Linked DNA regions of Homo sapiens. The protein of the gene in region 1 purifies or fractionates together with the protein of each later gene. This does not show direct contact. Each region holds a gene or a part of one and is shown on either strand. Other genes may lie near its edges.

Evidence for each region.
Region 2: the proteins of KIF3C (region 1) and ZC3H3 purify together in Homo sapiens (affinity purification with mass spectrometry; one large-scale study listed by BioGRID and IntAct). This does not show direct contact.

Annotation. Positions count from the first base shown.
Region 1 is NC_000002.12:25,954,940-25,958,586, reverse strand, and holds part of KIF3C (kinesin-like protein KIF3C), read left to right. Parts: intron 1-2,142; coding exon 2,143-2,244; intron 2,245-2,923; coding exon 2,924-3,046; intron 3,047-3,647.
Region 2 is NC_000008.11:143,531,430-143,535,076, forward strand, and holds part of ZC3H3 (zinc finger CCCH domain-containing protein 3), read right to left. Parts: intron 1-3,647. UniProt on the Homo sapiens protein: Required for the export of polyadenylated mRNAs from the nucleus. Enhances ACVR1B-induced SMAD-dependent transcription. Binds to single-stranded DNA but not to double-stranded DNA in vitro. Involved in RNA cleavage.

The DNA.
Region 1 (3,647 bases):
TTTTTTGTGATGAAGTCTCACTCTGGCACCCAGGCTGGAGTGCAGTGGCGTGATCTCGGCTCACTGCAGCCTCTGCCTCCCTAGTTCAACCGATTCTCCTGCCTCAGCCTCCTGAGTATCTAGGACTACAGGTGCACGCCACCACACCCAGCTAATTTTTGTCTTTTTAGTAGAGCTGGGGTTTCTCCATTTTGGCCAGGCTGGTATCGAACTCCTGACCTCAGATGATCCGCCCACCTCAACTTCCCAAAGTGCTGGGATTACGGGCATGAGCCACCGTCCCCAGCCCAGGGTTGTGTTTTTAGTGGATCTGCCTGGGTGTCATGTGGCAGAGGGGTGGAAGGGGACACTGAGGCAGTGGGGAGACCACAGCAGTGGTCCAGGAGAGTTGTGGGGGCTGCAATGAAGCCAGCAGGTAGCAGTGAGAATGAAAAATGGGGGGTGGTGGGAGCCGCACTGAGGAGCAGATTTGATGGCCTTGACTCACTGGCCAGATGCAACGGATGAGAGGCAGGGCAGGGATGAGGCGAGGCAGGTGAGTCGCTGAGGATGCAGTGTAAGGGATTCTTCCCTCTCATGGTCCTGCAAATGCTGACCTGGAGTGTGAAGGAGGAGCCTAGGATGGGTTTAGGTCTGTGGCAAGGCAATGCGGTAAGAGGGGAGATCATTAACCAGGAGCGCAGGCGGCTGCAGTGTGGCAGCATGGACAGCCTCCAGGGCTCAAGGCCTCTTCCTCCTGCCTTGGCCTCTGAGGCTGTGTGGGGCTGGAATGAAGCTCGTGCCTCTCTGGCGGGCCCAACTTGCTCAGCGTCTTTGGGTGACAAAGCCTCACACAGCCCATTCCTTGACCTCCCAAAAGCCACTGTTAACCCCTGTCTGGCTGTGTTCCCAATGATGTGGCTCTTACAGGTGGTCTCCTGCTCCCCAAGTCTGACAGCACCCCCTGCTTTGAGATCCCTCAGGTAGGTCAGCTGTTTCCACTGGGAAAAATTCCAGTGGAGAAGCAGCCAGCTTTTTCCACTGGTTCAAGGTGATTTCAACCTTCCAGGAGGCCCGTGATGAAGCCAGAGGACAACTGGGTACCCTGGGACAGCACCTTCTTCTTATTTTATTTTCATTTTCTAAAATTTCAAATCGGGCACCCCCCCAAACCAGAATAGGTTTTGAAAGGCTGCCGACAGCACCCTCTTGAAAATACATTTTATGTAGTCACAGTTTACACAAATCTGACATTATTTCAGCTTCAGATTCCAAAGCACTGACTAGGGGCTTTCACAGAGTGAGACTGGGGGTACGAGGTTCAAATCTCTCCTCTTTGCTACTCAATAGCTGCATGGCCTTAGGCTGGTCATTCTCAATGTCTTCATTTATTAAATGCGGAGGAGAATAGTCCCTCTTAGGGGGGGATGGAAACCATGGTGTTAAAGGCTTAGCTCAGCATCTAATAGATACTTAGCGCTCCACAAATGTTTGCCAGCCATCCTGGAACATAGGCGGTGTTCCAATATTGTAGATGACAGACCTGAAGGGATTAATTTGCCCAAAGCCTCGAGGTAAGTGGGTAGAACCAAGTCTTCCCGGCCCTCTCCAAAGCTCCTGCTGTGCTGGGCCCGTGCTGTTCCTTCTTGCTGTGCAGTCTGCTCCCTTTGGCTTTTCTTCTGCTTTCCACATCAGCTGAAGATTTAGACCCTTTCCTGCTGCCTGTGTTGAGAGCTGTCTTCCTGAGTTGGAAGCCAGTTAGCTAAAGGCTGGGCTACCTGGTGACTGTATCTTATCTTTCCCAATCCTCAACACCAGCTGGGTCCTGGTTGCCAGGATTAGGTTGCCACCCCCATCCTCCTCCTAGCCCTGGTGGACCAACCTTTCCTGTGTACCCAAAGCAAACAGACCAGTTGCCCTAGATTCCCCGAGGGGCACCCTCTGTGCCTCCCTAGTGTTCCTGCTGACAATAAGAGCCTTGTGCTGGGACCTGAGACACTAGAGGGGAAAACTCCATTCTCCCTGAAAGCCACAAGGCCCCATCTGGGACACATCTGGTGTCCACTCCCAGAAGGACCACAGAGCAGGGAAGCAAAATCTCTCCAGCTAGCAATGTTGTGGACCCTTTGCAAAGCCCACCTCCCAACCCCTCTGTGTCCCCAGGCCATGGAGAGCAAGCTCCTCATCGGGGGCAGGAACATCATGGATCACACCAACGAACAGCAGAAGATGTTGGAACTGAAGAGGCAGGAGATTGCCGAGCAGGTAGGGCCTCCAGGTGCCAGGTCCCCTTGGAGAGTGTGGCCTGCAGCTCATGTCTGGGAGGTGCAGGGCCGTAAACCATGGTGGACTCTGGATCTCTGGAATTACAGTGCTGAGAATCTCAGACATGCCACCCTGGGTCCCACAGGTCTACTAGCCCAGGGTCTTCCCTTTGGCAGGGGCACTGCTAGCTGGTGGGCGAGAGGACGTGATAGCTCTCCATAACATCAGCCTCCACAAGCCACCTGGTACTAATTCCTGGGCCTTCCACAAGGTGGTGTGAGTTCTTTGCCAACTGTATGACTGTTTCCCTAAATCATCAAGAGCCACAGTTTGTTGGTCTTACCAATCAACCATTATACTACTTGGGGAGAGGGTGAGGCAGCTTGGAAGGCAGTGTGATGTGCCTCCATCTGTGTGACTAACGCCTCTGGAGTAGGCCAGCTCTTAGGGGCTGGGGTCTCCATCCACATGGGGCAGAGCCTGGCAAAGGCATGGCCCTGGGAACTGAGAGGAGGGTTCCCAGGGGCTCTGCAGGATTGGGTGGGAGCAGTGGATGTGGGCCATGGGCCATGGTGAAGCCAGGTCCCGAGACAGGCAGAGTGAGCCAGTCCCCTGAGCTTTCCTGGCCCTCCCGAGTATGCACTGCTCCTTTGAGCCACACTGCCCGTCCTTGGCCTAGAAACGTCGTGAGCGGGAGATGCAGCAGGAGATGATGCTCCGGGACGAGGAGACTATGGAGCTCCGGGGCACCTACACATCCCTGCAGCAGGAGGTGGAGGTCAAAACCAAGAAACTCAAGAAGGTGAGACGCTGCAGCAGGACCGGTTAAGGTGTGCTGGAGGCCCAGCAGTCTCTGCCCAAGGGATGTGTGCTTCAGGGACTCCTCCCCATTTGGCTGGAACTGCTGAACCCCTGAGTGACATGGCTTGGCCTCGGGGGTGAGCAACAGGGGGAGGCAGGAGGCGGGGGCTGGGGGTGGAGTAGAGCCTTTTCTCCTGGGCCAGGGTGGGCTATGACAGGCTGCAAACTCTGTCACTTGCAGTATCCAGCGTTACCATCTTCATGGTCCTGGGTGATTACCCCGTTCAGTGTCACCAGTGAGTCACAGTTGGGATAGCTGGGCCTGGAGCAGGGCCAGGGGAATACAGAGAGGCTGAGGAGGAGACTGGAACCCCGGGAAGCTCAGGTGGGGAGTGTAAGGCCCTCAAGGACATGTCAAGGGATGAGAATAGCCGCTCACCAGAACCCTGCAAAGCCCGTGGCAAGGGAAAGACATGTACATGTGAGGGGGGTCTAGGGCAGGAAGCAGCAAAGCTCTAGCTTGGATTCTGGGAAAAACCTGGAGGCCCTTCGGGGTGGGTGATGTGGCTGCCCAGGGGCAGGCCTGGCAGAGGCACTGCCAC
Region 2 (3,647 bases), on another chromosome or scaffold:
CGGGAGAGGCAGGGAGGGGAGGAGAGGCACCGAAGAGTCAGGCTGAAACCTTCCAAACAGTCTCAGTCCCCAGGCGTGAGCGGCCACAGTGCTGCTGAACAATGCACTTTTGAATTCAATTAAAGCGATTATCTGTTGTGCCAAATAAATTGTGTACAGCATATATCCTGTGGCACTTTACACCTCCAGGCTCATTATTCCCTAACTGTTTCCTCCTGTTTATGCCTCTCAAATTAAATTGCTGATAATATGCGCCAAAATAAAAAATGAACGCACCTTGTCCCAAGAAAATTGATTCTCCCTTTTCCTGAACTGGCGATGGCCAGGTTTTATATACTCTGTTCTTGGTGATCATTAGTAATTCAATTTTCTTTTTATTAGCCCCCTTATCTGCTGAGCAATATAGTGGCAGGGCTGACCTCTTTCGCACGGGTAAATGTTTAAAATCTTTTCCCTGATTAATTTTGCCAGTTAAGAAAAAGAGGAGAAATGGCCCGGCTCTTAGCCATCACAATGAATAAAGCTTAATGTTGATTGTGACGGAATTTCTAATGCCAGGGAAATTGATTGAACGCGGCAATTACGCTGCAATAGTAACTCAGGGGAGATGGGATCGCTTTCTCCTGGCCGTAGCCTTTTGGTTATTTAAAATAATCCAATTTGCAAGGATAATTATGTATTAGCGTTTTATCTGCCACTTGAAATGAACAGGGGAGTTTCGATACTGGCCCAGCATTAGCAGGTTATTGCTGCAAATTACTTGGTATCTGCTTTCTTTCACATAAAAAGGAAATTACGCGATTACCAAAAAAGGGTGGACGGAGGCGATAGGAGGGGCAAGCATGCCCTCTGCTGGCCACTGGGCCGCACGGCAAGGCTGAAGTGCGGCGGGGGAGGGAGGCGGCAGCAGGGCTGCCTGGCAGCTTTCAGAAGCCCCTGTCCCTGGTGCATAAGTCCACAGGGCAGTCGTCCCCAGCTGGACACTGGGACACTGCCGTCTCCTTGAAGAGGAGAGGTGGAGCTGGAACTAAGCTTTTGCTGGGCAGAAAATGGGGAAAGAAAACTCCCAACAGCCAAATGAAGGAGCAGTCCCACCTGGCTGCCCCATCCACAGCCCACACGACCCCAGCATCCAGGAACGAACACCCCAGCCGATGGAGGCCTTGGCCACCCGGGAGGGCTGAAGGAGGGCCTGGGAAGGGCTCACTGGCTCACCAGAGCACTGCAGCGTTCAACGAAACAAAGCTGGGCCCTGCCCAGAAGCCCACTGGCCAAGGCAGAGGACAGGCAGGCCTCAGTTCCTAGGCAGGCAGGCAGGCATGGAGACGGTGGGCCTTGCAGGAGGGCACCTGGGGGAGCCACTCAACAGCTTCCTGGGCCCCAGCCTCCCATCTCCTCAGCAGACGCCCTGGCCACGCCCACCTCCCCTGCGGCCAGCTTGGAGTCTCACGGTGGCTGTCTCTGGGGTCAGCCGCCTGAGTGACCAGGCCAGGACGCAGGCTCGGCCTCTCACCTCCGCGCACATCTCCACGGGCTCCCTGCCTGCTTGAGAGCCTGCGGACTCCGCTCCTTGGCCTGGCGTCAGTGGCCTCACGCACAGGTCCTCCCGACTCTGCCCACTCGGGCCTGCCAGACACCCCGGGGCCCTGGACACGCCCCTCCCAGGGTCCTCCCCTGTCCCTCCCTGGCTTCCCAACGTAACCAGAACCAACCCCCCGTTCCCTCCTGTGGCCTACAAGACCCTTTCCCAGGACCTGGTCCCTCTGCCCCGTTGGCTGCATCCCCTCCAAGCCACACTCCCAGATGGTGAACTGGCCCCACAGCCTCCTTGTGCTCCAGAACACAGTAAGCTCGTTCCCACCTCCACCTCGGCCTCAGAGCTGAGCCCTATTCGCTCCTCTCTGCTCAGGTCACCTCCTCAGAGAAGCCCTCCCACTCGCCAACCACCTCTCTGCAGCTGGCCCTGTGCTCTCCCCCTGCCTGTTCCTCAGAAGGCATTTTCCACCCAGGAGCACCTTCCTGGCTGATGTACAAGCACTCCAGTGGCTGCCTGTCTCCACCACTGGAAGGCGGCTCCAGCCTCATCATCTCTTCACCTTCACTGCAGTATCCCCAGGAGCCGGCAGGCTGCCAGGCACAGTGACTCAACCACGCTTGCCAGTTGGGCCAGTGGTGGGCAAGTGAGTGGGACGCCTTCCCCACCCCTTCCTCAGACAGGACCCTCTCCTCTCACTCCATGCAGCCGCCACGCTGGTCTTTTTTTTTTTTTTTTTTTGAGACAAAATGTCACTCTGTCGCCCAGGCTGGAGTACAATGGCACGATCTAACCTCTGCCTCCTGGGTTCAAGTGATTCTCCTGCCTCAGCCTCCCGAGTAGATGGGATTACAGACGCTCGCCACCACACCCAGCTAATTTTTGTATTTTTAGTAGAGACGGGGTTTTGCCATGTTGCCAAGGCTGGTCTTGAACTCCTGACCTCAGGTGATCCACCCGCCTCGGCCTCCCAGTGTGCTGGGATTACAGGCATGAGCCACCACGCCCAGCCTCACGTTGGTCTTTAACTATGAGTTTGGCTGGGCACAGTGGCTCACACCTGTAATCCCAGCACTTTAAGAGACTAAGGCAGGAGGATCACTTGAGCCCAGAAGTTCAAGACCAGCCTAGGCAACAAAGCAAGACCCTGTCCCTACAAAAAAATTAAAAATTAGCCAGGCACAGTGACATGCACCTGTAGTCCCAGCTATTCAGCAGGGTCACTTGAGCCCAGGAGGTTGAGGCTGCAATGAGCTGTGACTGCACCACTGTACTCTGGCCTGGGAGGGAAGCAGGGCCCTGTTTCTAAAAACATTAAAAAAAAAAAAAAAAACGACGAGATCAATTACGCCCTTCCCTCTAGTGAGGCAGGACCGCAGCAGCCCCTCAGCTGTGCACTCCGAAATGGTCAGCCGGTGAAGCTGGTGGCCTCCCAAACCCACTCTTCCTGGCAGGAGTCCGGGGGGCGCCGAGCAAGGCCCCACCAGCAGGAAGCAACCTCCCCCATCCCCTGCCTATGCCCCACTCTACTAGAGGCCTGAAGAGGGAGCAGGCCAGGTGAGCAGGGCTGAACCTGCACCCAGTGGGGAGCCTCTCACCCCAACCACCACGCCATCTGCAAGCCTTGGCCTCCTAGGGCTCAGCAGACCCTGCTGGCCTCCCAGAGCTGGACACCTCCCCAACCCCTCCTCCCCAAGTGACCAGGGGATACCGCCAACTGTCCAAGCCACCCCTACCATCCACTCCCAGATAAGCCCACGACCTAACCACCATCCGGCCACCTCACTGTGGCCACCAGGGACCGCATGGGTCTCTGCTTGCTCCCTGTCACCAGGATGAAATCCACATGTCCTGGCGTGCAGCAGGTGTCGGCTAACGGGGTACAGCCGACCAGCGCCCCCAGCCCCACTTCCTCCCACCCCACTGTGCTGCAACACCCGGCTGCATCGCCCCATTCAGCCCTCCACCTGGGACCCAACGCCCTGCCCTCCCGCGGCAGCCCCCACACGGCTCTTGGGTCTGCCCAGGCCCAGCTCCTTCCAGAGCCGTCTGAAGCCTCCCTAGATGACGGTACGCTTGGCTGGGTTTCTTTTTTTTTTGAGACAGAGTCTCG